Regions from separate parts of the Homo sapiens genome. Here all the other regions are linked to region 1. The links come from fine-mapping of genetic effects on gene expression. A gene starts in region 1. Each other region holds a variant in brackets. All regions are shown on one strand. Distances are between the middles of the regions. Region 1 holds the start of PDXDC1 (pyridoxal dependent decarboxylase domain containing 1). Region 2 has its middle 62 kb from the start of MIR3180-4. Region 3 overlaps MPV17L-BMERB1 (MPV17L-BMERB1 readthrough). Region 4 overlaps MARF1 (meiosis regulator and mRNA stability factor 1). Region 5 has its middle 55 kb from the start of MIR3180-4. Region 6 holds the start of MIR1972-1 (microRNA 1972-1). Region 7 overlaps RRN3 (RNA polymerase I transcription factor RRN3).

The links.
Region 2: its variant is fine-mapped to the expression of PDXDC1 in atrial appendage (GTEx, PIP 0.98).
Region 3: its variant is fine-mapped to the expression of PDXDC1 in whole blood (TOPMed, PIP 0.92).
Region 4: its variant is fine-mapped to the expression of PDXDC1 in whole blood (INTERVAL, PIP 0.95).
Region 5: its variant is fine-mapped to the expression of PDXDC1 in whole blood (INTERVAL, PIP 0.90).
Region 6: its variant is fine-mapped to the expression of PDXDC1 in whole blood (TOPMed, PIP 0.99).
Region 7: its variant is fine-mapped to the expression of PDXDC1 in whole blood (INTERVAL, PIP above 0.99).

What each region holds. Positions count from the first base shown.
Region 1 is chr16:14,973,458-14,977,524 of GRCh38, reverse strand. It overlaps PDXDC1 (pyridoxal dependent decarboxylase domain containing 1), which reads right to left and starts at 2,499. Exons shown (of 23, transcript NM_015027.4): 1 at 2,305-2,499. The coding sequence starts at 2,325. RefSeq lists an enhancer at 2,418-3,181 and a silencer at 3,339-3,633.
Region 2 is chr16:15,215,358-15,219,424 of GRCh38, reverse strand. No RefSeq gene overlaps it. Among named protein-coding and RNA genes, the nearest start is that of MIR3180-4, 62 kb to the right of the region's middle. The variant C/T (reference allele first, on the strand shown) is at 1,627.
Region 3 is chr16:15,447,783-15,451,849 of GRCh38, reverse strand. The region is part of intron 1 of MPV17L-BMERB1 (MPV17L-BMERB1 readthrough); the gene reads right to left. All of the region lies in intron 1 of BMERB1 (bMERB domain containing 1), which reads right to left. Among named protein-coding and RNA genes, the nearest start is that of BMERB1, 15 kb to the right of the region's middle. The variant T/G (reference allele first, on the strand shown) is at 1,774.
Region 4 is chr16:15,606,008-15,610,074 of GRCh38, reverse strand. It overlaps MARF1 (meiosis regulator and mRNA stability factor 1), which reads left to right. Exons shown (of 27, transcript NM_014647.4): 20 at 350-552; 21 at 1,557-1,784. Among named protein-coding and RNA genes, the nearest start is that of MIR6506, 3.1 kb to the left of the region's middle. The variant C/TC (reference allele first, on the strand shown) is at 1,815.
Region 5 is chr16:15,207,565-15,211,631 of GRCh38, reverse strand. No RefSeq gene overlaps it. Among named protein-coding and RNA genes, the nearest start is that of MIR3180-4, 55 kb to the right of the region's middle. The variant A/T (reference allele first, on the strand shown) is at 2,441.
Region 6 is chr16:15,010,157-15,014,223 of GRCh38, reverse strand. The region is part of intron 8 of PDXDC1 (pyridoxal dependent decarboxylase domain containing 1); the gene reads right to left. MIR1972-1 (microRNA 1972-1) reads left to right here and starts at 3,827; the gene lies at 3,827-3,903. RefSeq lists a silencer at 1,109-1,214. The variant G/A (reference allele first, on the strand shown) is at 2,274.
Region 7 is chr16:15,069,949-15,074,015 of GRCh38, reverse strand. It overlaps RRN3 (RNA polymerase I transcription factor RRN3), which reads left to right. Exons shown (of 18, transcript NM_018427.5): 12 at 936-1,066; 13 at 2,765-2,895; 14 at 3,762-3,946. It also overlaps a transcript of PDXDC1 not described here. Among named protein-coding and RNA genes, the nearest start is that of NTAN1, 16 kb to the right of the region's middle. The variant G/TG (reference allele first, on the strand shown) is at 1,771.

The sequences.
Region 1 (4,067 bases):
TGAAGGATCACAAGGTCAGGCGTTTGAGACCATCCTGACCAACGTGGTGAAACCCCATCTCTACTGGGAATACAAAAATTAGTCGGGTGTGGTGTCACACGCCTGTAGTCACAGCTGCTCGGGAGGCTGAGGCAGGAGAATCACTTGAATCCGGGAGGCGGAGGTTGCAGGGATCCGAGATCGCCTCACTGCACTCCAGCCTGGGCAAGAGACCGAGACTCCCTCTCAAAAAAAAAAAAAAAAAAAAAAAAAAAAGTAAGTCCCATAGTTCTGAAAAACTTACACTCAGAATTTTCACATTGACCTAAGGCAGAAACCTCCAGCCCACACGTTCTGAATTCCTAAAAGATCACTACAATTTTTGTGAATGCTCCAATATTAAACACACTGGAATTTCAGTCCCTCTTGCGATCCTCATTGAGAGAGTTTAAGATCTTTTATCATCAATTAACACTTAGGGAGCAACTACTGTAACCTACTGATCAAATGCCAGAAAAGTAATATTTAAAGCAGGATTCTGACCCACCCTGCAGATTTTCCTATAAAGGCTAATTATTCCTGGAGGAAAGATCACCCCAGTTCTTCAGGATTCCAATTACAATCACATGAAGCCCACCCACCTTCTTAGGAAATTGATAACACCACTTTGCATCGTTTTGTACTCAACTGCTGGTGTTATAAACATGATCTTGACCAGGATTTCTCAGCCTCAACACTGCTGACATTTTGGGCCAGAGAATTCTCCAGCGTGGGGGGCTGTCCTGTGCAACGTAGGATGTTTAGAGGCGTCCCTGGCCTCTACCCACTAGGTACCGGCAGCACCTCCCTGCCCCCATTGTGACAATCAAAACTATGTCCAGAGATAGCCAAATGTCTCCTGGGGAAATAAATTGCCCCCTGCTTTAAGAACCACTCATCTGGACAAACTCAAAGTACCAAAAGGTAGACACCCTGCTAATCAGACGACCGGAAAGACTTTATTCCCAGCCAGGAAAACACGTAACATTCACCCCAGAGATGGCACAAGAAAACCATATTATCTTTTTCTTGTCTTCCACCCAATTTATGCTAAGCAACCCAGGAGTAGGCTATACCACTGTGAGCACATGAAGACATCTGGCCCAACCTTTACAATTATTGCCTTCAACTCTCCAGTGACAAGTGAACAAAATCTACAGCAGCTGCTGCCTTGAAAAAAGACAAAATATATTATTCCTACCAGCTCAAAATTAAAATGTAGCCGTCTTAAAACACGAGCATTGCTCCTGAATGCCACATGCATGAAAAACCGGGTATGCACTGGATTGGACAAGCAGACTCCCAAGCTGGAACAGACAGAAGGGCTTTGAGGGAGGGCAGAATGTCAGGTACCGAAAGCAGGAATCCGTGAAGAAACCCAAACTGGTTTCCATTTACAAGCCCTAACACTGGGACAATGAGAATCCGTTTCACATGGTAGAGCAGTCAGCCTGGTACACCACGCTGCCGTTCCCCCAAGGGGAAACCAGAGGTAGGCTCTGTTACCAGTGGATTTCGAGTTGACTCGGGGATCCCTCCTCGCCACTGGAATGGGGGAGCCAGGAAGTTGTGGAGCAGCTGCGATCCCCAAAACTCAATTCGCAATCTACGCAACACCCACCCCTTTCTGGAACTCAGAGGTTCTCGCCCGGTGATCGCAGGCTCAGCATCAGAATCACCTGCGTGGGGCGGAGTGGGAGCGGGGCGGTGGCGGTTAAACACGCAGTTCCCGGTCCCGCCCCCAGAGGTTCTGACCCCGGGACTGAACCTCCGCATTTTACCAAAGGCCCCAGGTGATTCCCACTCAGGCTGAAGTTGGAAAACCACTGCTTTGGCAATTTTCATTCCTAACTCGGAGACCAAGAAAAACCTACAGGTTTGCAGCTGGCTCTGAAATAACTGCGGCTTCTTTCCGGGAGCATCTGGGGCCGCCAACGGAGAGCTCCCGGTCCTCCGAAAGGGCCAGCCGAGCTCAGGCCGGCCACTCGCGGAACCTCGGCAGGGCCCAAGGTCGGCCCCGCGGTCCCAGTCCTGGGCTCCGGGCCCGTCGCGGCCCCCACCGAACCCCGCCCAGCCTCTTCGGCCCACGGGGACCCAAGAGACACCCGGCCCCGTGACGCGCCCGGGCCCCAGCCGCCCTCCCGGCGAGGCCTCCTCAGGCAGGGCCTGTCAGCCCGCGTCCCCCTGTCCGGGTCACAATGGCAGCTCGCGACTGGGAAACAGTTGCCTCGGAAGCGGGAGCCCCGGGCCGCAGCACCGTCCCCATCGCCCCCTCCCGGCACGGACCTTCTCCAGGGACGCGTCCATGGCTGAGGCGGCCGGTGGTGGCCTGGCGGTCCCGGGCTCTACTTCCTCCTCCCGCGCCCCGCAGCTCCTTCCACGCTGGCAGCGCTGACGTCCCCCGCGCCCGCGGCCGGCGGGGCGGAGAAGAGGAGGAGCTGCCAGGCGGCGCCGCGGGCTGCCGAACCTGATGGTTGAGAGGCGGCGGGGCGGGGCCCCGTAGCGCTGGGCGGAGCCCTCTGGGATTCCGTACCTGGGCGCCACGCCGGCCCTCCCTAACGTGCGCAGGTGAAGGGGGGAGGATGCCCGGTGGATTGTTCACCAAACTCTTTCCAGCAGCCTGTTGCAATCATCAAGGTAGAAGTATAATAATCACAAAGTACTATTCATGGAGTGAAAGGCTGGAAATACTAGTGACGCACCTCACTTCCGGGCCCAGGCTTCCAAGTCTCCCGCCTCACCTCCCGCCGGCATCCCTCGAGAATGGAACAGGCCATTCGCCAAGGAGGCGGTGAGCGAGTGGGCAACCTTGCGCATGCGCAGGACTCGCAGCGTCCTCGGCGCCCGGGGACTTGGGGGTTTTGGGGTTGGGGGCTGCTTAGTGAACGCTGTTCAGAGAAGGCACTGATCTAAGCTGAGGTGTTGTCTCAGACCTTACCGCCGAATTCTAGACGGAAAAAATTGTTGTAACAACCGGTCCAGCCTCTTTCATGTCACAATTATCACTTGTCAGGTAATGGGTAGTAGTAATAATGATAATATTAATACATCAGCTGCTGTTCTTCCATTTTCCTATTTCAGCAGCTCTAGGAGATCATTATCCCCATTTCGCAGTGCCGATCTAGGTAGGATTCAGACCCAAGCCCCATGAGTCCACATACTGCTTCCACTCCTACTTTACTTTAAATGTTTTAAAAAGTTAATTTTTTATTAATTTTTTTATCTTGTTAACCGATGAACTGAAGAGAAAAAAAATTAAAATCTCATTTTAATAGAGAAGGTAGGGGTGTCTCACTATGTTACCCAAGCTGGCTTCAAACTCCTGGCCTCAGGCGATCTTCCCGTCTCAGCTTCCCCAAGTGCTGGGATTACAGGCATGAGCTACCACGCCCGGCCACTTTTGCAATTTTACTGCAATGTGTTTCGAACGAATGGGGAGGGCGTACATTTGCTTAGTAGATTCCTCCCACCTTAATGTGGGAAACTGATATAGACTACCACAGTGGCAATCAATGGAACACTTCACCTCTGCGATGACGCTACAACCACAATCTTACTCCTTTTCTCTCCTGTTTTATACTCTTCGTCCCGAAATCTGTGTAAACAGGGTCACATTTTCAGCGCAGTAACTCCATGTTTTGAGCTATCTACGTTGTATTTGGTAAATTGCCTGGTTATGTTAATAAAATTATTTTCTACCAAAAAACCCTTGTGTGCTGGTTTAGACTGTACTGTGGGGATTATTCTGACTCTCTAAAGAGCTTTCCAAACAGAAGGAAAGATAGATTTATGTCTTTCAAGAATTGAAGATTGAATGTACCCCTGCTTGAGCAAAACAAGTCACTTTTCCAACGTGTTATGAAATTTTTCAAACGTAGAAAAGTTTAAACAGTTGTACAGTGAACAACCATATACCCACTACCTAGATTCTACAGTTAATTTTCCCTATATTTGCTTTAATCACATATGCATCCATATATCCATCCATCGATATATGTTAGTACATTTCACCTCTGAGCACCTCAGCATGGGTATCATTCAAAACTAGT
Region 2 (4,067 bases), 240 kb before region 1:
TGGCGAAACCCCGTTTCTACTAAAAAAAAATAATAATAAAAACAAAAAATTTAAGTATTTGTTGCCTAGCTGGGGTTTGCATGGGCATGAGTCAGGAAAGTGGGCTGCGTGCACAAAATGGGAGGTACCTTTTCTCCTCCAAGGCGGCCCCAGCTCCAGCTATGGGGAGATGTTATGTTGCCTATTTTTCTTTTCCACTTGTTTTTTTAAAAAGTGAGAGATCAGGATTTTTTATGTACAATTTCCCAATGTTTAACAGTTGCCAACTAAGTTTTTTTTTTGTTTTTTTTAAGAAGGTCACTATGAGCCTTAGTCCTGTGGGAGCATCTTGGCGCCTGCTTTTTGTCTGGTTTGGGCAGCACCCTGAGGAGGGGGAAGTGGGTGGGGTGCCAAGATTGGGTATGGCGGGGTGTCAGGTCAGTTTGGAAGAGTCTTGGCCTGCTGGTTGGAGAGGAGGCCTGGCTGGATTTTATGCTGTTCAAATGAGAAACAGACCCATTCTGAGAAATTGAAAGTTGTGCCATCTTTATTTCCTATTTTCCACTCTGTGATTTTTTTTTTTTTTTTTTTTTAAGACAGAGTCTCACTCTTGTTGCCCAGGCTGGAGTGCAGTGGTGCGATCTCAGCTCACTGCAACCTCTGCTTCCCAGGTTCAAGCGATTCTCCTGCCACAGTCTCCCAAGTAGCTGGGATTACAGGCATGCACCACCATGCCTGGCTAATTTTTTTTAATTTAGTAGAGACAGGGTTTCATCATGTTGGTCAGGCTGGTCTCAAACTCCTGACCTCAGGTGATTCACCCGCCTCAGCCTCCCAAAGTGTTGGGATTACAGGCGTAAGCCACCATGCCCAGCCTCTGTGATTAAAGTCAAAATGTGGGAATTATTTTCATGCACATTGTAGATATAGACACTAAATGTAATTCCATCTCCCGAACCCTCTATCCGCCTTTTTTTGTTGCTGTTGTTGGAGTCCAAATGCCTAAAAATTGTGCAGAGCTTAATGCCTCATATAGGTTTCTTTCTCCTCGGTCTTTCTTTCTTTCTTCTTCTTCTTTTTTTGTTTTTAACTTTTATTTTTAGTTCAGGAGTACATGTGAAGGTTTGTTCCATAGGTAAACTTGTGTCATGGGGGTTTGTTGTTCAGATTATTTCATCATCCAGGTGTTAAACCTAGTACCCATTAGTTATTTTTCCTGAGTCTTCCTCCTCCCACCCTCCACCCTTTGATAGGCCCCAGTGTGTGTTGTTCCCCTCTATGTATTCTCATCGTTTAGCTCCCGCTTCTAAGTGAGAACATGCAGTATTTGGTTTTCTGTTCCTGTGTTAGTTTGCTAAGGACAGTGGTCTCCAGCTCCATCTATGTCCCCACAAAGGATGTGAGCTCGTTCTTTCTTAATGGCTGCACAGTATTCCATGGTGTATATATAACACTTTTTTTTTTTAATCCAGTCTATCATTGGTAGGCATTTAGGTTGGGTCTTTATATCTTGTCTCATATATATTTTTCATTTTTCTCACTTTGTCTGTTAATTGCACTTTCCAATTTTGTTATGTTATGTGCATTTTTGGAAGCTGCCTCAAGAACATCCTGGAACGAATAAAAATGCTTGTGTAGCAGGACATT[C/T]TGGCTGACTGATCTGGAGGTCGAGATGCTTTGACTGTGGACAATACTTCCCTCTCCTCTGCCTGCTTGCATGCTCCGAGGCTTTTATTTTTAATGGAAACAGGGAGATAAAGGGAATGGAATAGGATCTGCTTTCTATTTGGCTCTCTGTGCTGGGTTTGAGGTCCTATGATTAGAGGGACAGACTGACAGCTGTTTTTCAGGGGACACTTGGTGACATCCTAAGCAAGGCATGATGGCCAGGAGTTCACATTGCCCTAGAGACAAGCAGAGTGGCTTCAAGGTCTGGGTGGCAATTGATGGCCAAACTCTGACTCCAGGTCTCTGCAGGGAAGTTGCTGCTTGTCATTTTCAGGTAGCTCAACAGACTGGAAGCTTTGCGGGGATCTGGAATAATCTGCTTTTTAGAAGCAGCAATGAAGCTTCCCTCAGCTTCTTTGTGAACGAATGTGTGCCAAGCAGACTGGAAAGTGCTCTGTGAACTCTGATTGCTAAATGCAGGTGGGTACATCACAGAGACCCATTGTGTTGACCAGAGACCACTTTGAGGGGGCTCATTCCTGCAAACCATCCAGATAAATGGGGGCACATGTCACCATCATTTTTGTATGAGAGAAAGTAGGAATGGTTTGTCAAGATCTGCCAAAATTAAAAACACGCAACAATTCCACTTCTTGGAATCCATCCTATGGAAATATTCATATATGTGCAGAATAATATATGTTCAAGGTGTTCATTGCAGTATGTTTTGTGATAGAGAAAATGTGGGATAACCTAAATATTCATCAACTAGGGAGTGGCTAAATTATGGTATATCCGTACTACTGGGCGCCATGTAGCTGTTAAAAAGATAAGATAAATTGATAAGTGGCAACATGGAAATATCTCCCAAGCACACCAACTTTACATAAACTATGTGTGTGCATCTATATACGTGTGTGTATCTATCTATCTATCTGTCTGTCTATCTACCTATCTATCTATCTATATTTGACTCTTGAACAATACAGATGTGAACTGCTTCAAAACCCCTGTGTAGATGAAGGGTTACTTTTCCTGTCCTTGAGTTCTGCAAGGTTGACTGCAGGTCTCGGGTAGGCACAGATTTTGGTACACCTGGGGGTCCTGGAACCAGTCCCCTGTGTATACCGAGGGATGGCTGTGTATAGTTCATATATATATATATAGTTATAGTTTATAGTCTATATATACTCTATATAACTACATATATACTATGTACTATATGTAACTATATATTTATATATTTAATATATACATTTATATATTTACATGTGTTTACATATAGTACATGTTCATTTATATATTTACTAAATATATAAATATAGTATATATTTAGTACTAAATATGTACTATATGTAACTATAAATATTTATGTATACTAAATATACTAAATATGTATTTAGTAAATTTAGTATATACTGAATATATATTTAGTAAATTTAGTATATACTAAATACAGTATCTATAGTATATATAGTATTATATATAGTATATCGTATATACACACATATATAGTATATATTATATATACACATACTATCTATACATATATAGTATATTTAGTGCCAAATATATATTATATGTAATTATATCAATATTTATATATTATTATATATAAATATATATGGTATATATAGTATTTATGTATACTAGATATGTAAATACTTAGTATATATAGTATATTTAGTACTAAATATGTACTATATGTAACTATAGTTACATACATATAGTACATATTTAGTTTTAGTCCTAAATGTTTAGTACGTTAAATATTAAGTGTATAAAACTATATATAGTATATATACATATTTAATATATAGTTAATGGAATATAATATGAAATATAAATTTTCCATATTTTATATGGTTATATATAACTGTATATATACATAACTACATACATATACATGCAGTTGTGTATTTATATAGTGTGTGTGTGTGTGTGTGTGTGTGTGTGTGTGTGTGTGACATTGTGTATGTACAATCAATATCCCCCTCCCCACGGGAAGGCATCTGGGTTTGTAGACTGGCTGGTGACTAACGGATTATGGAAAGTTGTTGCCTGTGGTCAGGGTCGTGCTCAAAATGTTTGAGCACCGGGAGGGCATGAGCACAGATTCACCAGAGTGGATGCTGGAGCGGGCCCCGCAGGCCCTTGCTCGGCCAGGTGTTAAGCCTGGATAATGAGAGTGAGGGGCATGTGAGGTAGCAGGGGAGGTTGCTGAGCGACTGGCGTGGGAGAGTGTCCCTGTTTTGAACAACTGGTGTGGCCGTACTGAAAGCCCTAGTGAAATATCCGTCTTGCCGTTGGCAGTCTTATTTTAAAATTCTAATAAGAAAGTGGTGGGCTGTCTACACCCTGATTTGCAAGTGGCAAATTGGGAAGTGGGCTCCATAAATAGAAGGCCTTTGGGAGTTTAT
Region 3 (4,067 bases), 470 kb before region 1:
AATCCCAGCACTTTGGGAGGCTGAGGCAGGAGGCTCACTTGAGCCCAGGAGTCCAAGACCAGTCTGGGCACTAAAGTAAGACCCTGTCTCTACAAAAAAAAAAAAAAAAAAAAAAATTAGTTAGCTAGCTGGGTGTGGTGACACCCACCTGTAGTCCCAGCTTCTCAGGAGACTGAGGTGGGAGAATCGCTTAAGCCCAGGAATTCAAGGCTTCAGTGAGCCATGATTGCACCACTGCACTCTGGCCTCGGTAACAGAGTGAGCTCCTGTCTCAAAAAAAAAAAAAAAAAAAAAAAAGAAATACTAAGAGTGACCCAGTATGTACATACACACATAGGCATAAGTAAAACAAACGTTGGACAAAATAGGCCGGGCATGGTGGCTCATGCCTGTAATCTCAGCACTTTGGGAGGCTGAGATGGGTGGATCACTTGAGGTGAGGAGTTTGAGACCAGCTTGGTCAATACAGTGAAACCCCATCTCTACTAAAAATTAGCTGGGCATAGTGGCATGCACCTGTGGTCCCAGCTACTCAAGAGGCTGAGGCAGGAGAATCGTTTGAACACGGAAGGTAGGGACTGCAGTAGCAGAGATCACACCACTGTACTCCAGCCTGGGTGAGACTCGCTCCAGAGAGGGAGACTCTGTCTCAGAAAACGAACAAACAAAACAAACAAACGAAAGGTTGCACGGAAATAAGACTTAACTTTAGCAGCATAGATGCAGCTTTCTATTTCCTATTTCCTTCTATTTCATTTTTTTTATGCTGGTTACGCCCCCTTAAACTAATTTAAAGTTTCATGCATGAGGCTTTAAATCTCACACTTGGAAAACCTCTGAGTTTTCCAAAGTTCATTGCTGTTGCTTGCAATAATCCTGTCTCTTGTGTGTGAAAACCCTAAAATGATCATCGATATGATGGAACGTGGAACCTCACAAACTTTTTCTCTTGGGCAATGCAGCAGCATGACAAGCTCTGGCAGCAAAAAGCCACAAATGGTGGTTGGAAGAGCCAAGCATAGCATCGAAGCCAAGCAGCCAGAACTTTCTCCTCCCACAGCAAGCAAAAAGCCAGCTATGGCCGGGCGTGGTGGGTCATGCCTGTAATCCCAGCACTTTGGGAGGCTGAGGCAGATGAATCCTGTGAACCCAGGAGTTCGAGATCAGCCTCAACAACATGGTAAAACCCCATCTCTACTAAAAATACAACAATTAGCCAGGCATGGTGGCTTGTGCCTGTAATCCCGGCTACTCGGGAGGCTGAGGCAGGAGGATTGCTTGAGCCCAGGAGGTGGAGGCTGCAGTGAGCCAAGATCATGCCACTGAACTCCAGCCTGAACAATAGAGCAAGACTCTGTTTCAAAAAAAAAGCCAGCTGTGATGTGAATACCTTTTACATGCCTATTATTTGTCTAGGGTAGGGATCCATGAGCCTTCAGACCAAACCCAGACCAATGCCAGTTTCTCTATGGCCCTTGAGCTAAGGATGACTTCTACATTTTCTTTTCCTTTTTTTTCTTTTTTGAGATGACCTCTACATTTTCAAATGGCTGTGGGAAAACATCAAAAGAATAATAATATTTTATGACATGGGAAAGTTATATAAAATTCAAATTTCAGTGCTCACCAATCAAGCTGAAACAAAACATAGCCACATCCATTCACTTAGGTGCCTGTCTATGGCAGCTTTAGGCTACAGCTTTGGAGTACGGTGGTAGAGCTGAGTGGTCGCAACAGGGGCCATATGACCTGCACACCCTAAAATAGTATCTA[T/G]CCTTGTACAGAAAAAGTGTATCAGGGCTGGGTGTGATGACACACACCTGTAATCCCAGCACTTTGGGAGGTCAAGGCAGGAAGATCACTTGAGGCCAGGAGTTCAAGACCAGCCTGGGCAACATAGTGAGACCCCATCTCTACCAAAAAAAAAAAAATTTTAAAGAAAACAAAAAAGAAAAATTTGCCCATCTCTAGTCTAAATACTAGATGGAGATTAAAAATAAAGTAGGCTGGGTGCAGTGGTTCATGCCTGTAATCCCAGCACTTTGGGAGGCCGAGATGGGTGGATCACCTGAAGTCAGGAGTTCGAGACCAGTCTGACCAATATGGTGAAAGCTTGTCTCTAGTAAAAATACAAAAATTAGCCAGGTGTGTTGGTGTGCACCTGTAGTCCCAGCTACTCAGCAGGCTGAGGCAGGAGAATCGCTTGAACCTGGGAGGCAGAGGTTGCATTGAGCTGAGATCACACCATTGCACTCCAGCATGGGCGACAGAGCGAGACTCCCTCTCTTAAAAAAAAAAAATTAAAGAAAAAGAAAAAAAATTCAACTTTTATTTTAGACTAAGGAGGTACATGTGCAGGTTTGTTACAAGGGTGTATTTCATGATGCTGAGATCTGGGGTCTGGGTGAAACCATCAGCCAGATAATGAGCAAAGTACCTAACAGGTAGTGTTTCAACTCTTCCCTCCCTCCTTCCTCCCTCTTGTAGTCCCCAGTGTCTGCTGTTCCCACCTTTGTGTCCATTTGTACCCAATGTTTAGCTTCTACTTATAAGTGAGAACACGCATTAGTTCACTTAGGATAATGGCCTCCAGCTGCATCCATGTTGCTGCAAAGACCATAGTTTTACTTTTTTTGCTAGCTGGTGGTATTCCACGGTATATATGTACCATATTTTCTTTATCCAATCCACTGTCAATAGGCACCTAGGTTGATTCCACATCTTTGCTATTGCAGGTAGTGCTAAACGGACCAGTTATTTAACGGGGCCTTATCGTTTTTTTGTTTCTGTTGTTTCAGAAAGACGTGACTTACTCTGAAATGTTATACCTCACCTATGCTGGCATCTAAGAATCAAAAATTTAAGGTGTGTAAAGTACCTAGCCCAGCCTATACCCATCACAACACTGTCACTTGGCTGCCGGTTCCCATTCATGGTACCTATTCCTGTTACTTTGTATCTGATCTGAAAATCTCACATCTTTCCCTCAAAGCAGAAGGCGAGGATGCTAATCTCACGGCAGCATCAGGAACAACTCTTTGTTTTTTCAGTTTTTTTTGAGACAGATTCTTGCTCTGTCGCCTAGGCTTGAATGCAGTAGTGCGATGTCAGCTCACTGCAACCTCTGCCTCCCAGGTTCAAGCGATTCTCATGCCTCAGCCTCCTGAGTAGCTGGAATTACAGGCTTGCACCACCATGCCCAGCTAATTTTTATATTTTTGGTAGATGGGATTTCGCCACGTTTCCCAGGCTGGTCTTGAACCCCTGAACTCAAGTGACCCACCCGCGTGGGCCTCCCAAAGTGCTGCAAATACAGGCGTAAGCCACTGCGCCTGGATGCTGATATTTTTAACTGGTTAAGACCTCAGGCTAATGACAGGGTTTTTCCTTGCCTATCACATTGAGAGCACTTAGAAGACCTTCTTTCCTTCTGAGACATAATAACTACTATGGGTTTCTCCCTTCAAGATTTCTGATCAGCCCCTTCTTTCAAACCCACTGCTCCTGCAGACTCCAGCCCTGCCATGGATATTTGGACATACAGCCCTCATCATGGGATAATTCCAAACCCTCCTAGCTGACCTTCTTATCCCCAGGGCCCCTGACTTTGCATCCAGTTGGTCACCATTGCCAGACAAGCCTTCCTAAAATGCTACTTCCGGCCAGGCGCAGTGGCTCATGTCTGTAATCCCAGCGCGTTGGCAGGCCAAGGCAGGCAGATCACCTGAGGTCAGGAGTTTGAGACCAGCCTGGCCAACAGGGTGAAACCCCATCTCTACTAAAAGTACAAAAATTAGCTGGGCATGGTGGCGGGTACCTGTAATTCCGGCTACTCAGGAGGCTGAGGCAGGACAATCGCTTGAACCCAGGAGGTGGAGGTTGAAGTGAGCCGTGATCACGCCACTGCACTCTAGCCTGGGAGACAACAGCAAGACTCTGTCTCAAAAATAAATAAATAAATAAATGCTACTTCTTTCCCTCCATCCCTTGTCCTCCAATGGCCCCATATTGCCAGTCCTTTTTTAATCCACCAAAGTCTAGTGGTCCTGCTTAACCATCCTTTTTAT
Region 4 (4,067 bases), 630 kb before region 1:
ACTTGCTTAAGTACAGGGACCTGGGTGTGTGTCATGTTAATAGATATGGGGCAGGGGCTAGAAAATTGTTTCTAGCTTATAAGATGACATTGTTTCTAGCTTATAAGATGAATATATATGAATTTCATAATATAATAATATCATAACTTCCTGGTGTTCTGCCCTGGAACATGTTTGAGAACCACTTGCAAAGAGGGAAGAGTATATGTGTTTGTTTTAGGTTGTGTGTGTTTGGAAGGCAAGGATGATATCGTTTATAAATTCCCAAAAGGATTTACTCTAGTGTGGATGTTGAACACAAATGGGTAGAAAAAAACTGTGATTTTATGTTTTTTGGTTTTTTTAAAAGAACGCACTCAGGATGAAATAGAAAGGACAAAACAGTTCTCCAAGGATGTCGTTGATTTGCTGCGTCACCAACCCCATTTCCGGATGCCCTTTAATAAATTTATCCCTTCTTACCATCACCACTTTGGCCGGCAGTGCAAACTTGCGTACTATGGGTTTACCAAACTACTTGAACTTTTTGAAGCCATACCTGATACTTTACAAGTGAGTGAAGAAATTCTAATTTTATAAAGTATTTTTCTGAACAACGTATAGGAAATACTTTTTCACGTTCCAGACCTGTTTTTCTGGGAAGTAGGGAGTTACGAAAGAGGATGAAAATCTAAGCTATTCCAGTCAGAGAAGCCATATTCCTGACTCATTAGTATTTTTAGATAAATATGGCTTTTTCCTTCAATAAAGGATTATTCAAACTTGTTTTGGGGGTAATTATTGAAAAAAAGATTCAGTAGGTTTTCTTTTTTTTGTTTGTTTGTTTTTGTTTTTTGAGACGGAGTTTCTTTCTTGTCGCCCAGGCTGGAGTGCAATGGCGCAATCTTGGCTCACTGCAACCTCCGCCTGCGGGTTCAAGCAGTTCACTTGCCTCAACCTCCCGAGTAGCTGGGGATTACAGGTGCCCGCCACCATGCCCAGCTAATTTTTCTATTTTTAGTAGAGATGGTGTTTCACCACGTTGGCCAGGCTGGTCTTGAGCTCCTGACCTCAGTTGATCCGCCTGTCTCAGCCTCCCAGAGTGCTGGGATTACAGGCGTGAGCCACCACACCTGCTGATTTCTTACACTGAATATTTGTTCATTACTTTTATACTTTTAAAATCCTTCGTGTTGAAGGTAGGTCTGAGTACATGAGGTAACATCAGTGCTAAGCTGTTCGCTGTTGCTAAGTTAAACCAAATTTCTGTTGTTGATTTTATTTTCTTTTTTTACTACTGAAGTGCTTTTTAAAAATTGTTTTATTGTGGCACAATACACATAACATAGAACTTACCTTCGTAACTATCTTTATATCTCCTGTCCAGTAGTGGTCAGCACATTCACATTGTTATGCAACCGATCTTCTGAACTTTTTCATCTTACACAACTGAAACTTTATACCCATTCAGTAACGCTGACTTGTTTTTTCATTACTAGCTGCATACTTTTTTTGCTATTCTGTAAACACCCGTGATTTGTTTATTTTCCCTTTCCTCCCCCCGTGTGTTTTCAAAGGTATTGGAATGTGGAGAAGAAAAGATCCTTACTCTGACAGAGGTGGAGCGGTTCAAAGCTCTAGCTGCCCAGTTTGTTAAACTCCTTCGGTCCCAAAAAGATAACTGCCTTATGATGACAGATCTCCTTACAGAATATGCTAAAACTTTTGGTTATACATTTCGTCTCCAAGACTATGATGTCAGTTCCATTTCGGCTTTAACTCAGAAACTCTGCCATGTCGTGAAGGTAAATGTTTTTTTTTTTTTTTTTTTTTTT[C/TC]CCTCATGGGATAAAACTCACAGTGACCTAATTCTCATTAGGACGTTTGCGTGTGCTGTAGCGTTTCTTTATTTACACCTTGAACTACTTAACTGTCACAGCATTATGACTCGTTTTGTGTCATTAGTGCTTATTAGGTAATAGAAGCCTTGGTTTGGAAGTTGAGAGTTTTGGTCTTCCTCTTGTGTGTTTCTGAATGGCCTTGCCAAAGCAATGCCTTTGTGAACTGATGAGGTCACTCTTCACCCCAGGGTTCGGTCATGAGGTGCAGCTGCCTCAGCACTGCTGGCCTGAGCTTGACTCCTTCCAGTGTGAGTTTTGCCTGTGACGTTCTTGGGAGCCCGTAATCACACAGTGTCCTCTCCCTCCACATTCTCACCCACTTAGGAGTAGGCTTAGGAGCAAGCGAGGGTGCAGAGTGGCCTTTGTCACTGGCAGAGCTGTAGTAGAGAGGGCAGCTCGTGCTGTTTGCTGTCCTGGACTGCACTTGACCCTTCCTGTCCTAGGCAGAGCAGCTGCCAGTTTTCGGCCTCCTCCCCCACAGGACCAGAAGAAGTCACTGCCAGGAGGAAGGAATGGAAAGGGAAGCATGAAGGACGGCACCCTCAGTTACAGGCCCATTACTAGCTGCACACATTTCTGTGTCATTTAATTCCGTAAACAGCCAGAACGGGTTCACTCTCCCTTTCCTTCCCACTGTGGGGTTTTTTTGGAGTTGGAGTCTTGCTCTGTGGCCCAGGCTAGAGTGCAGTGGTGCGATCTTGGCTCACTGCAACCTCCGCCTCCCAGGTTCAAGAGATTCTTCTTCCTCAGCCTCCTGGGTAGCTGGGATTACAGGCGCCCGCCACTACGCCCAGCTAGTTTTTGTATTTTTAGTAGAGACAGGGCTTCACCGTGTTGGCCAGGCTGATCTCGAACTCCTGGCCTCAGGTAATCCGCCCACCTCAGCCTCCCAGAGTGCTGGGATTACAGGCATGAGCCACTGCACCCAGCCCCCACTGTTTTTTAATGTATTGGACTGCAGCTAAGAAGACGTTCTTACCTTGGCAGAGGTAGGAACGCTCAGAGCTCTCCTTAGGTACTGATTGGTTGGAGGAGGAGGTGAGAGAGCAGGAAGCACAACCAGGAGAGCCGAACATCCCTGAGCCAAGGCAGAGGAATGGCCAGCAGCATCGCAGGAGGGCTGGTCAGAGAGGGACTGCCTGACTTCCAGGTTTAGCTCAGTGGGAAGAGTCGGTGCTGCTGGCCAGGTCAGTGGCAGTGTTGGTTGTGTAGACAGAAGCCACCTTGGAGTGTGGTGAGGAGTGAGGAGAGGTGAGAAAATGGCCCAGGTCATCTGGACAGCATCCTGGTTTGTCTGCTTGTGAAGATGGAGGGCTGTGGCAGCAGCTAGAGGCTGTGGGGCTGAGGGAGCAAGGGAGGATTTGGGCTGTTGGTTTTCCTACCTGGAAAAACTTGAGCATGTCTGAAAGCCATTGATGTGGATCTGTCTAGAGAGAGAAGATGAACATACAAGGGCGAGAAGGGGTAAGACAGGAGGGCCTTGAGGTGTGGGAGACTAGGAAACAGCACACAGAGGAAGGAGGAAGTATACAGGGCAATAGGCTGGGGGCAGGCATGGGCAGGTCTGATGTTTATCATCAGGAATAGAAGGGAGTCCTCTTCCAAGAGTGGTTTTCCACTAGAGAGAGGGACTGATCTCTGCTTAGAGAGAGAGAGGAGAGGCAGGGCTCAGGACTTAGGAGTGGGGAGAAGGTCCACAGTTGTCATGGTGAGTGGAGAGTGGCTTGATCAGGATGTCACGTGGAGTGCAGGGGTATCGAGAGCTCACTGCAAGTTGGCACCGTAGACTCTGGGAGAGCAGCAGTTGGGGTGTGGCTATGCAGGTGTCGGTTCAGGGAAAGCAGGTGGTTGGATTCAAGGTGGGAGTTTACCGATGGGCGTCAGGAAAAGGCATGGGATGAGCGAATTTAAATATTGACAAGAATGTCAGTGCCAGCATGACAAAAGAGGAGAGTGAAGCAAGGGAGTGGGCTGGCAAATTGGGAGCAGATAGGAGGCAGTGATGCTGCTGAGGTTTGAGAAGGGGCGGAGTTGAGCGGGTAGAGTCTCTTTCTGCACTCCCACCCCAACAGCAGCTCCAGACTTGCTTTTGCAAGTGGGATGCTCAGGAGGTTTGAATGATTTATGTTGGATGGGGTAATGACAGGTTTGCACTGTGACCCTGGAGATGGGTGTCTGCAGTGAAATTGA
Region 5 (4,067 bases), 230 kb before region 1:
GCTGCCAGCTTTGAGAAAGGGGGGCTCAGTTTCCCAATCTTGGCCCAGAGGACTTCTCTCCATCTGGATGAGCATTGAGATCAAGGGTGAGCTAGTCCCAAGGTTAATTGGATGAACCGATCTTTTCTTTTGTTGGCTTGTGGAGGTCAATTAGTAATGTGGATGATTGGATTCAGTTAAATGCCTTCAATGAACTAGGTCTATAGGGGACAGTGATTGGTTCCCAAATGGGGTGAGGGACCCATTTGGACTAAACGTTTCACCTTGCCCTGGCTTTGGTGGCTTCAAAACCAAATGAATGGCCCTTTAAGCCATTAAGCAGTCGCAAAGAAGCAGGTCTACCAGCACTCCTGTTCATTGGTTTGTTTTTATTTATTTGAGCATTTTATTTTTATTTATTTATTTATTTATTTTTGAGATGGAGAAAGACTCCGTCTCAAAAAAAAAAAACAACAACAAAATAAAAAAAAACCCACAAAGAAGGCATTCCCTGTTGCTAAAATATAAAATTATTTATTTATTTGTATTTTTTTATTTGAGCATTTTATTCATTTGAGCAGTTTATTTTCCCCAATTTCATCCCTTGTAGTGGAAAAAGCACAGTCTAGAGTCAGGAAGACATAGCTATGACTTCTAACCCTGTCTTTTGCTATATGCATGAAGTTGGGCAATGATATTAGTGTTTCTGAGCCTTAATTTCCTTGCCTGAAAAATGGGGCCTCCGGGCACAGTGACTCACGCCTGTAATCTTAGCACTTTGGGAGGCCGAGGCGGGAGGACCGCTTGAGCCCAGGAGTTCGAGAGCAGACTGGGCAACATGGTGAAACCCTGTCCCTACAAAAAATACAAAGATTAGCCGGGTGTGGTGGCATGGACCTGTCATCCCAGCTACTCGGGAGGCTGAGAGGTGGGAGGACGGCTTGAGCCTGGGAGGTTGAGGCTGCAGTGAGTTGTGATTGCACTACTACATTCCAGCCTGGGCAATTAAAAATAAAATGGAGCCGATAGAATTTACCTTGCCGTAGTGCTTATTGTGGATATGAAATGGAATAACATTAATATTTAAGGTGTTTATTGCTGGGCCTGGTACTAAGAATGTGAATCTCTTTTCCTGTAGAGAATGGAGGCTGTACCCTCTAGATAATTTGTAGCTGGTTTGTAGCTGGTTGTTTATTTCATTGCCCTAGTGATCTGGTATTTTCAGACAAATAAGATCTGATATTGAAATGATGCCCATATTGTGTCTCTGTGTTCTAAAAGTAATCGGAAGTTGTCCCAGGAATTGAGGTGTTATAACTACTTGCAAACCATTGCATCTTAACTGAGTCCAAGCAAATTTCACTAGAGCTCCATACATGTACTTCCATATTCTTTATGATACAGAATCACATGAGCTGGGTCCTGGTTTTGATCTCAACCTCATTTCCCTGAAAACAAACAAACAAACAAACAAACAAACCATAAGCAGTACAAAATGAGTACTGATGAGAGTGACATTCACAGCCACACCTTGATCCTGCAGTTGAGGAAATACAGTCGTTACAGGAGCTTATGCTGAGTCTTCTGTGAGTCTCAGATATTTTGGATGCTGGCGACTTCTCACAGGTTGATGTCCAAGCCACTGCAAGGCTCATGTAATGGGCAGCTCCAAGACTGAAGTAAGAACAAGTTTCAGTAAGATAGTATGGGAAGAGTAGGTTGCCCTTTCAGCATGAACCCTTCAGGATGTTTTGCTAGGAATTTGCAATGCCAGAGTAAAAGGTGTAGAAGGAGTATATAGAAATAAGACATGCCCTAGGCCGGGCACGGTGGCTCAAACCTGTAATCCCAGCACTTTGAGAGACCGAGGCAGGCAGATCATGATGTCAGGAGATCGAGACCATCCTGGCTAACACAGTGAAACCCCATCTCTACTAAAAATACAAAAAATTAGCCAGGAGTGGTGGTGGGCACCTGTAATCCCAGCTACTCAGGAGGCTGAGGCAGGAGAATGGCTGAACCTGGGAGGCGGAGCTTGCAATGAGCCGAGATTGTACCACTGCACTCCAGCCTGGGCGACAGAGGAAGAGTCCGTCTCAAAAACAAACAAACAAAAAAACAAACAACAGAAGAACAAACAACAAAATAAAAAAACCTCCACAAAGAAATAAGGCATTCCCTGTTGCTAAAATATAAAATTAAAATGTAATGGATCAGAGTAGAGAAATGCAGGGTTGCTCTAACAACAACAACAAAAACGATGCGTAGTGATAAATGCGTACTATGTGTCAGATGTTTTTCTTGGCTGGAGAATTCATCTAAGTTTCAGAATATATTCTAATGAAGGGGGGATAGACAATAAAAAAGTGTATATGATTTTGTATATTAGGAAATGATAATTACCAATGTGAAAATACAGGAAGGAAAGAGGATAGAGAGTGTGAGGAGTGGAGTGGATGCT[A/T]TAATTTCAAGTAGGTAATTATGGAAGGTTTCAATGAGTAAATATAATAGCACTTGAACAAGACATTCTCTCATTTTCTGAGAAGTGTTCTAGGAAGAGAGAACCCCACAGTACCTAGGCACTAAGGTATGAGCATTCCTGGAATGATCAAATAAGAACAAAAAGGGTCGGCCGGGCGTGGTGGCTCACGCCTGTAATTCCAGCACTTTGGGAGGCCAAGGCGGGCGGATCACGAGGTCAGGAGATCACGACCATCCTGGCTAACACGGTGAAACCCTGTCTCTACTAAAAAAATACAAAAAATTAGCCGGGCGTGGTGGCGGACACCTGTAGTCCCAGCTACTCGGGAGGCTGAGGCAGGAGAATGGCGTGAACCCGGGAGGCGGAACTTGCAGTGAGCCGAGATTGTGCCACTGCACTCCAGCCTGGGTAACAGAGTGACTCCGTCTCAAAGAAAAAAAAAAAAGAACAAAAAAGATCAATGCAGCAAATTCAGGCAATAATAGGGTGGTGGGAAATGAAGTCAGAGAGTTACAAGACAGATGGTTCCTGAGACAACCAACTTGAATTTATCCAATTGGAGAGTTTATTGTCATGCTCATCCTTCTTATGATTGTTTTCCTTGTTCTAACATCTTGCTGGGCACTTTGATGTGTATATTACCTGCAGGATCTTCTCAATCCTCACAACTACCTTTTGAGGCAGATAGTATATTATTCCCGTTGCACATAGAAGCAAACCAAGGCTCAGAGAGGTTAAGTAACTTTATAAAGCCACAGAGGACAGTGGCAAAGGCCCAGTGCCTTTTCTATCAGGCTATCTTGCTTCCATTTTCAAAGCAGTTTTGTGTCCCACCTTGTATCCTTTGCTCACAGCCTTGTCAATAAGAGCCTCCAGACAGCTCTTATTAGTCCTATTAATTGCTTCTTCCTAATTCCCGGGAATGGAATTGAATGGTAAAAATTGAATGGGTAGACACAATTTCTGAGACTCTTTTCTATGGAGCTATGTTTGTGTCCCCCACACAAATTCATGTGTTGAAACCCTAACCTCCAACGGGATGATATCTCACTGGGATGATATTAGGTAGGGCCTTTGGGAGGTAATTAAATCACAAGGGTGGAGCCCTTATCAATGGGATTAGTGTCCCTATAAGAAGAGAAAGAGGCTGGTGCTCTCTCCCTCTCTGCCAAGTGAGGACACAGCAAGAAAGTTGCTGTCTACACACCGTAAAATGAACCCTCACTGGAACCAACCATGCTGGCACCCTGATCTTGGACTTCCAGCTTCCAAAGCTCCGAGAAAGAAACTTCTGTTGTTTAAGCCCCAGGCTGTGGTATTTTGTTATAGGAGCCTGAACTGACGAAGGCACTCCAATCTATTTTGCACAATATTTCCTTCTTGGGTTGTGTCCGGGGACCTTGTTCATGGCACTGACCTTCCACATGTGCTTGGTGATTCTTGTGAAATCCTTTTCCATAACCCAGTTCTCCCATCAACATCACTCCCTTTGTCTCTCTCTTTTTGATCATTGCCTTCTACATATTAATTTTTGTTTTCATGTTTCTCCTCTCTCCCCTGGTAGTACACAGAGGCCGGGCTTGGCCAGTGTTCATTGCTGCATATG
Region 6 (4,067 bases), 37 kb before region 1:
CTTTTTTTTTTTTTTTTGAGACAGAGTCTCACCCTGTTGCCCAGGCCGGAGTGCAGCAGCGCAATCTCGGCTCACTGCAATCTCAGCCTCCTGGGTTCAAGCTATTCTCCTGCCTCGGCCTCCTAAGTAGCTGGGATTACAGGTGCCTGCCACCACAACCAGCTAATTTTTATATTTTTAGTAGAGACAGGGTTTCGCCATTTTGGCCAGGCTGGTCTTGAACTCCTGACCTCAGGTGATCTTCCCGCCTTGGCCTCTCAAAGTGCTGGAATTACATGCATGAGCCACCGCACCCGGCCTAAATAAGCAGTTTTATTGTAGTATGATTTTTTTTTTTTTTTTTTTTTTTGAGACAGAGACCCTTTCTGTCGCCCAGGCTACAGTGCGGTGGTGCGATCTTGGCTCACTGCAACCTCCACCTCCCAGGTTCAAGCGATTTTCCTGCCTCAGCCTCCCAAGTAGCTGGGACTACAGGTGCACACCACCACACCTGGCTAATTTTTGCATTTTTAGTAGAGATGGGGTTTTACCACATTGGTCAGGCTGGTCTTGAACTCCTGACCTTGTGATCTGCCTGCCTCAGCCTCCCAAAGTGCTGGGACTACAGGCATGAGCTCTCATGCTCGGCCTATTGTAGTATGATTTACATGCAACAAAACTCACTCATGTAAGTATACGGTCCAATGAGTTTTGACAAATATATAGAGCATGTAACCATCAACACAATCAAGATTCAGAATACTTCCATCAACCCCCAAATCCCATCAACCCCAATATAATTACCCTTTCCCTGACTCCTCACTGGCCCTGGAAAATCCTGATCTGCTTCTGTCACTGTAGTTTTTTGCCTTTTTTTTTTTTTTTCTTTTTTTTTTGAGATAGGGTCTCACTCTGTCGCCCAGGCTGAAGTGCAGTAGCACAATCTCGGCTCATTGCAAGCTCCGCCTCCCGGGTTCAAGCCATTCTCCTGCCTCAGCCTCTCAAGTAGCTGGGACTACAGGTGCCCACCACCACACCTGGCAAGTTTTATTTATTTACTTATTTATTTTTTACAGAAACAGAGTCTCACTCTGTCACCAAGGCTGGAGTGCAGTGGTGCGATCTCACCTCACTGCAACCTCTGCCTCCCGAGTTCATGCCATTCTCCTGCCTCGGCCTCCCAAGTAGCTAGGACTACAGGTGCCCACCACCACACCCAGCTATTTTTTTGTATTTTTAGTGGAAACGGGGTTTCACCATGTTAGCCAGGATGTCTTGATCTCCTGACCTCGTAATCTGCCCGCCTCGGCCTCCCAAAGTGCTGGGATTACAGGCTTGAGTCACTGTGCCTGGCCTGACATTATATTTTAAAGAATTTTTTTTTTTTTTTTTTAAGAAAGGATCTGGCTCTGTCACCCAGGCTGGGGTATGGTAGCACAATCTTGGCTCACTGCAACCTCTCTCTCCTGGGTTCAAGCCAACCTCCCACCAAAGCCTCTGGAGTAGCTGGGACTACAGGTACACACCACCACACCTGGCTAATGTTTAGTATTTTTTGTAGAGATTTCCTAGGGGTTTCGCCATGTTGCCCAGGCTGGTCTCGAACACCTGAGGGCAATTGATCTCGCAGTCTCAGCCTTCCCAAGTGTTGGGATTACAAGTGTGAGCCACCTGTAATTTCTCCATTCTAACAGACATGTAGTAATGTCTCATGGTGATCTTAATTTGCATTTCACTAATGACTAATGATGTTAAACATCTTTTCAAGTGCTATACATTTTCATTTTCTTTGATGAAGTATCTGCTCAAATCTGTTGTTCATTTAAAAAATTGTATTGTGGGCCGGGCACAGTGGCTCACACCTGTAATCCCAGCACTTTGGGAGGCCAAGGCAGGCAGATCACCTAAGGTCAGGAGTTCAAGACCAGCCTGGCCAACACGGTGAAACTCCATCTCCACTAAAAATACAAAAAACTAGCTAGGTGTGGTGGCACATGCCTGTAATCCCAGGTACTCGGGAGGCTAAGGCAGAAGAATCACTGGAACCCGGGAGGCAGAGGTTGCAGTGAGCCAAGATCGCACCACTGCACTCTAGTCTGGGCAACAGAATGAGACTCCATCTCCAAAAAAAAAAAAAATTGTATTGCTTGTGTCCTTATTGAGTTGTAACAGTTCTTTATATATTTTAGATACAAGTTCTTTGTCAAACAAATGTTTTGTAGCTTCTGGGGAAAAGAATGAAAAAGAAATTTTAAAAGAAGACAGGACTGGGACAGTGGCTGGCTGAGTGTGGC[G/A]GCTCACGCCTGTAATCCCATCACTTTGGGAGGCCAAGGCAGGTGGACCACCTGAGGTCAGGAGTTTGAGACCAGCCTGGCCAACATGGCGAAATCTCGTCTCTACTAAAAATACAAAAATTAGCCCGGCACGGTGGCGTGCGCCTGTAATCCCAGCTACTCGGGAGGCTGAGGCAGGCGAATCGCTTGAACCTGGGAGGCGGAGGTTGCAGTGAGCCAAGGTCGCACCACTGCACTCCAGCCTGGGCAGCACAGCAAAACTCCATCTCAAAAACATAAAAAATAAAAATAGAAAAAGACAAAAAAAAAAAAAAAAAAAGAAAAAAATGTTTTGCAAATATTTCTCCCAGTCTGTAACTTGCCTTTCATCTTCTTAATAGGGGCTTTCAAACAGCTAATGCTTTTAATTTTTGATAAAGTACAATTTATGGTTCACATATTTTGTATCCTAAGAAATGTAACCTAAGGTCACAAAGATCTCCTGTATTTTCTTTGAGACATTTTATTGTCTTAGATCTATGCTTAGGTTGATGAACCATTTATAGTTAATATTTATATATACAGAGAATAAGATAAGGGTTAAGATTCAGTTTTTTTCCATATGGATATCCAAGCTCTAAGACCACTGATGGAAAAAGATGGTCCTTTCTCCCTCGAATTACTCAGGCATCTGTAAAAACCTGAAGTGTCCATATACTTCACATGAGTCTATTTCTGAATTCTCTATTTTCTTTGGTTAATCTCACACAGTCTTACTTGCTACTTTACAGAAGTCTTGAAGTATGACAAGGTAAGTCTTCCAATTTTGTTCTTTTTCAAAATCCCTTGGGCTGTTCCTAGATCCCTTGTATTTCTATATAAACTTTAGAATTAGCTCATCAAGTTCTATTAAGAAATTGTAGCCTGCTGAGATTTTAAGATGGATCAAGTTGAATCTACAGATTAGTTTGGGAAGAACTGACTTAATACTTAGTCTTCCAACCCGTGTGTATGGCATATCGTTCTTGGGTCTTCTTGAATTTCTCTCAGTAACATTCTTAGTTCTCAATGTACAGATCTTGCATATATTTTGTTAAATTTATCCATAAATTTTTCATCTTTTTTGATCCTATTATAAATGACATTTAAAATTCAATTTCCAATTCTTCTTTGCTAGTATGTAAAAATCCAGAAAATGGTTTAGATTTGATCATTAGTTCCAGTAGCTTTTCTTTAGTTTTCTATCTATACAATCATGCCTGCAAACAAAGTTTTATTTCTTCCTTTCTAATCTGTCAGTTATTTTTTTTGCCTTATTGCACTGTCTTAGATTTCAAGTATGATGCTGAATGAGATAAATGGAGCAGCAAGTGGTAGTTGCTCTGCCGCCTATAAGGTAGATATTTAAGTGTGACATCTTATGAATTTTCTTGTTTAATTTTTACAACAATCTTACAACGTCAGTACAATTATTTTTATTTATTTATTGAGATGGGGTCTTGCTATGTTACCCAGACTGGTATTGAACTTCTGAGCTTAAGCCAACATCTTGCTTGTCTCCTGAGTAGAGGGACTATAGGCATGTGCCACCACACCTGGCTTAAATGTGTCATTTAAAAATTCAGGCCAGGCACAGTGGCTCATGCCTGTAATCCCAGCAATTTGGGAGGCTGAGGCAGGCGGATCACCTGAGGTCAGGAGTTCGAGACCAGCCTGGCCAACATAGTGAAACCCTGTCTCTACTAAAAATACAAGAAATTAGCCAGATGTGGTGGCATGCACCTGTAATCCCAGCAATTCAGGAGGTTGAGGCAG
Region 7 (4,067 bases), 96 kb before region 1:
AGAGTATTTTTTAGTGAATTTGGGTGTCACACTAAACACAAGTGTTTCATAATCTGCCCTTTACATGGATGCTGAAGATAAACATTTTCTCATATCATTGCCTGTTTTAAAATAATTGTTATTGAATCCCAGCACTTAGGCCAAGGTGGGAGGATCACTGAGGCCAGGAGTTCAAGACTAACTATCCTGGGCAACATAACAAGACCCCATCTCTAAAAAAAAAAGTCGTAATAATAAATGTTGTTGGTCACATGGGTTTAACTGTCTTTTACTGTTTTCACCATGATAAGTAACAGTTATAATGAACATACTTGTGCCTATATATTCAGCTGTTTACTAACAGTAAAATGATCGGATTAGAGGTCTTTTGCTACACGAATGATAGAATTGCTCTTCAGAAGGGTTTGCATTTCTGACCTTGCCACAGTGTGTGAGGTGAGGGCCTGCTTCCTTGCAGGTGTTAGATTATTATATTCAGAGGAAAATCTGTGTAAACTAAAAGTAGCATTTTGTTTTAATGGTATTTTAATGGATAATGTCTGTCTTTCTTTTTTTTTTAAATAGCCACGGTCTTACTCTAACCCAGGCTGGAATGCAGTCGCACAAACATGGCTTACTGCAGCCTTGACCTCCTGGGCTCAAGCGGTTCATCCGCCTCAGCCTCCCATGTAGCTGGGATCACAGGCGTGCCACCATGCCTGGCTAATTTTTTGATTTTTTGTAGAGACAGAGCTTCCCTGTGTTCCCCAGGCTGCCCTTGAACTCCCGGGCTCCCTCTCACTTTGGCCTCCCAAAGTGCTGGGATTGCAGGCAGGAGCCACTGTGCTTGGCTGGATAATGTTGTTTTTTAATGGTGTTGTGTTTATAAAAAATATGGCAGATGAAACTTGAAAATATGTCTTTATAAAAACTGAGATGCCAGATTTTCTCCATAGGTAAGGTTGATAACGGCAAAACAAAGGATCTATATCGCGACCTGATAAACATCTTTGACAAACTCCTGTTGCCCACCCATGCCTCCTGCCATGTACAGTTTTTCATGTTTTACCTCTGTAGTTTCAAATTGGTGAGTAAGAATGTGATTAACATTATCTTAGCTTACTTTGTTTTTGCCCAAAAATTTTCCCTAAAAACTGGGGTGGACGGAGACCATGAAGTAAATAATTCTTTTCTTTGAGCTTACTTGCTAGTCTGCTTAATAAAATCGCATTCTCCTTTCTTTTTTTGTTTTCTTTTCCTTTCTTTTTTGAGACACAGTCTCGCTCTGCTGCCCACTGCTGCAACCTCCACCTCTTGGGCTCAACGGACTCTCAGTCCTTACCCTCTCGATAGCTGGGACCACAGGTTACCATGCCTGGCTAATTTTTGTATTTTTAGAAGAGGTGGGGTTTCGCCACGTTGGCCATACTGGTCTTGAACTCCTGACCACAAGTGATCTGCCCGCCTCCTGCCCCGCAAAGCGTTGGGATTACAGGTGTGAACAACTGTGCCTGGCCCACGTTCCCTTCTCAGTACACTTGGAGAGAAAACAGATTGCTGCCTGCCAGCCCAGCTAGGTGCTCCGAAAATGTCATCCTGCCTTTTGGTCACTAGGTGGTGCTCTTCCCTTAAGCCTTTCTCTATTAAAATCTCATATGGGGTAATTAACTGTATTTCCTTTATTCTTTCCAAGGGTTGAGTTGTAACTAGCCCAAACCAACTTATTAATCTAGAATTTTAAAAACTTTAGGCTTTGTCTTTTCTTCTTCTTCTTCTTTTTTTTTTTTTTTT[G/TG]GTGGGGGAAAGAATGTAGAAGGCTTTTCCTTCTCTGCAACGATTTTGTGGCTTCCTAGAGATCAGGAGAGTGTTGGTCATGGGAAAGAAGGTTGAATTCAGTCTGCCCACATGGGTGTGCCTAGCTTTAGAACAGCGCTATTTAGGAGAAGTTGGAAGTTACACCCTTTGGTGAGAAGCTGTGTCTGTTTTTTTCCATGATTGGCATAATTAACTCAAATACCAGCTGTGCGTTAGTCCGTATTTCTGTTCGTGGTTGAGTTCAGTGTGTCCAGAGACCGGAAGGTGCTTTGCACTCACAGGAGTGCCCATGTGGAGCTCCATGGGATGTGAATTATTGTTGGTCACCAGTTCTGGCTGACATTGGAATCACTTGAAGAGTTTTTGTAATATGTGGATTCCAAAGCCCTGTCACAAACCTATTGAATTTGTACCTCCCAGGTTGAATTTTTTGTTGTTTTTTGTTTGTTTGTTTTTTGAGATGGAGTCTCACTCTGTCACCCAGGCTGGAGTGTAGTGGCATGATCTCAGCTCACTGCAACCTCTGCCTCCTGGGTTCAAGCGATTCTCCTGCCTCAGCCTCCCAAGTAGCTGGGATTACAGGCACCTGCCACCATGCCTGGCTAATTTTTGTATTTTTAGTAGAGACAGGGTTTCTCCATGTTGGCCAGGCTGGTCTCGAGCTCCTGACCTTGGGTGATCCACCCGCCTCGGCCTCCCAAAGTGCTGGGATTACAGGCGTGAGCCACTGTGCCTGGCCCCGGGTTGATTGTGATGCTTAGCTAGGTTTGGGATCCACTGGATTATTTAACACCCGAGGTGCCTTTTGTTTTTAATGATATTCTCTCAATGTGTTTTAAAAATGAAGCCCATGAGATAGTTATGAGATAGTAGAACTTTTCCCTACATTGGTGAAGTAAAAATCTTGGGATTTTGATAGCCAGATTATCTTAGGCATTAAAAAAGATCACACCGACGCCCTCTCTTTTTATAGGGATTCGCAGAGGCATTTTTGGAACATCTCTGGAAAAAATTGCAGGACCCAAGTAATCCTGCCATCATCAGGCAGGCTGCTGGAAATTATATTGGAAGCTTTTTGGCAAGAGCTAAATTTATTCCTCTTATGTAAGTAGCCTAATTTTCCGAATACTTTTTAATATCATGCTTTAAAAAGAGTATAGCATTGTCTCAAGTCAGAAATATCTCCCATTTTTTTTGGCATGTTTTTAAAGTGAATAAAATCCCTACTCTGTGCAAGATGTTTATATTTCTAAGTGGTGATTTTAGAATAAAGTGTCTCCTTTTTTATATATAAAACCCTGTATGTAAGGCTTTTGTCATCTCTTTTGGTTGCACTTAAAGATCCATTTGTTTTGTGGATAGAGGACAGTGTTGTATACTGTTTTGATTCTTTTTGTAGGTTTGTCATTTTTTCATTTGCATTCCAAATCTATTGTATCTGTTAAAGCTGAAGAAAAACCCTTTTAAAGGTAATAGACCTATCTAGGAGGCCAGTTTCTTCCAGTGGCCCATAAAGATACCTTTGGACAAGGATGCTGTTGAAACCCTTCCCCAACCACAAAATTATTCACCATAGGACTTGACTAGGATGCATCAGGGAATACTGAAGTCCACCAGACTGTCTTTCTCTTGAGAGGTGTTGGTGAACGTGTCCTGTTTGGCCAATCACCTTAAGAGGGGTGCCTTTGAGATGGTTAGGAGAACCTGCTTTCCATCCCTTGGGACGTTCTTAGGGGCTCACCTGTTCCTAGAAGGTCAGAGCTACTCTGCCTTGTAATTGGAAGGTTGTCTTCCTACGCACCCATCCTTATCCTTCCTTTCTTTGCTTTTCCTCTGTACCCATGGGTATTATTTAAAGAAACCTATGAACTTACTTAGCATGGTTTGTAATGAAAGGCAGTTGTGTGTTTTTATGTTATTCTGGTTTTTTTATGATGTGTAAAGTTGACTTGAATTTTTCTTTTCTCTAGTACTGTAAAATCATGCCTAGATCTTTTGGTTAACTGGCTGCACATATACCTTAATAACCAGGATTCGGGAACAAAGGCATTCTGCGATGTTGCTCTCCATGGACCATTTTACTCAGCCTGCCAAGCTGTGTTCTACACCTTTGTTTTTAGACACAAGCAGCTTTTGAGCGGAAACCTGAAAGAAGGTCAGTGTTGTGGGAGTGCTGGACTGGATTTTCCTTGTGTTCTTGTCACCCTTCAGAATGGTGATTCATTACTTTTTTGAGATTTTTATAAAAACTGGATTCAGAAAACTGCATGTGCACT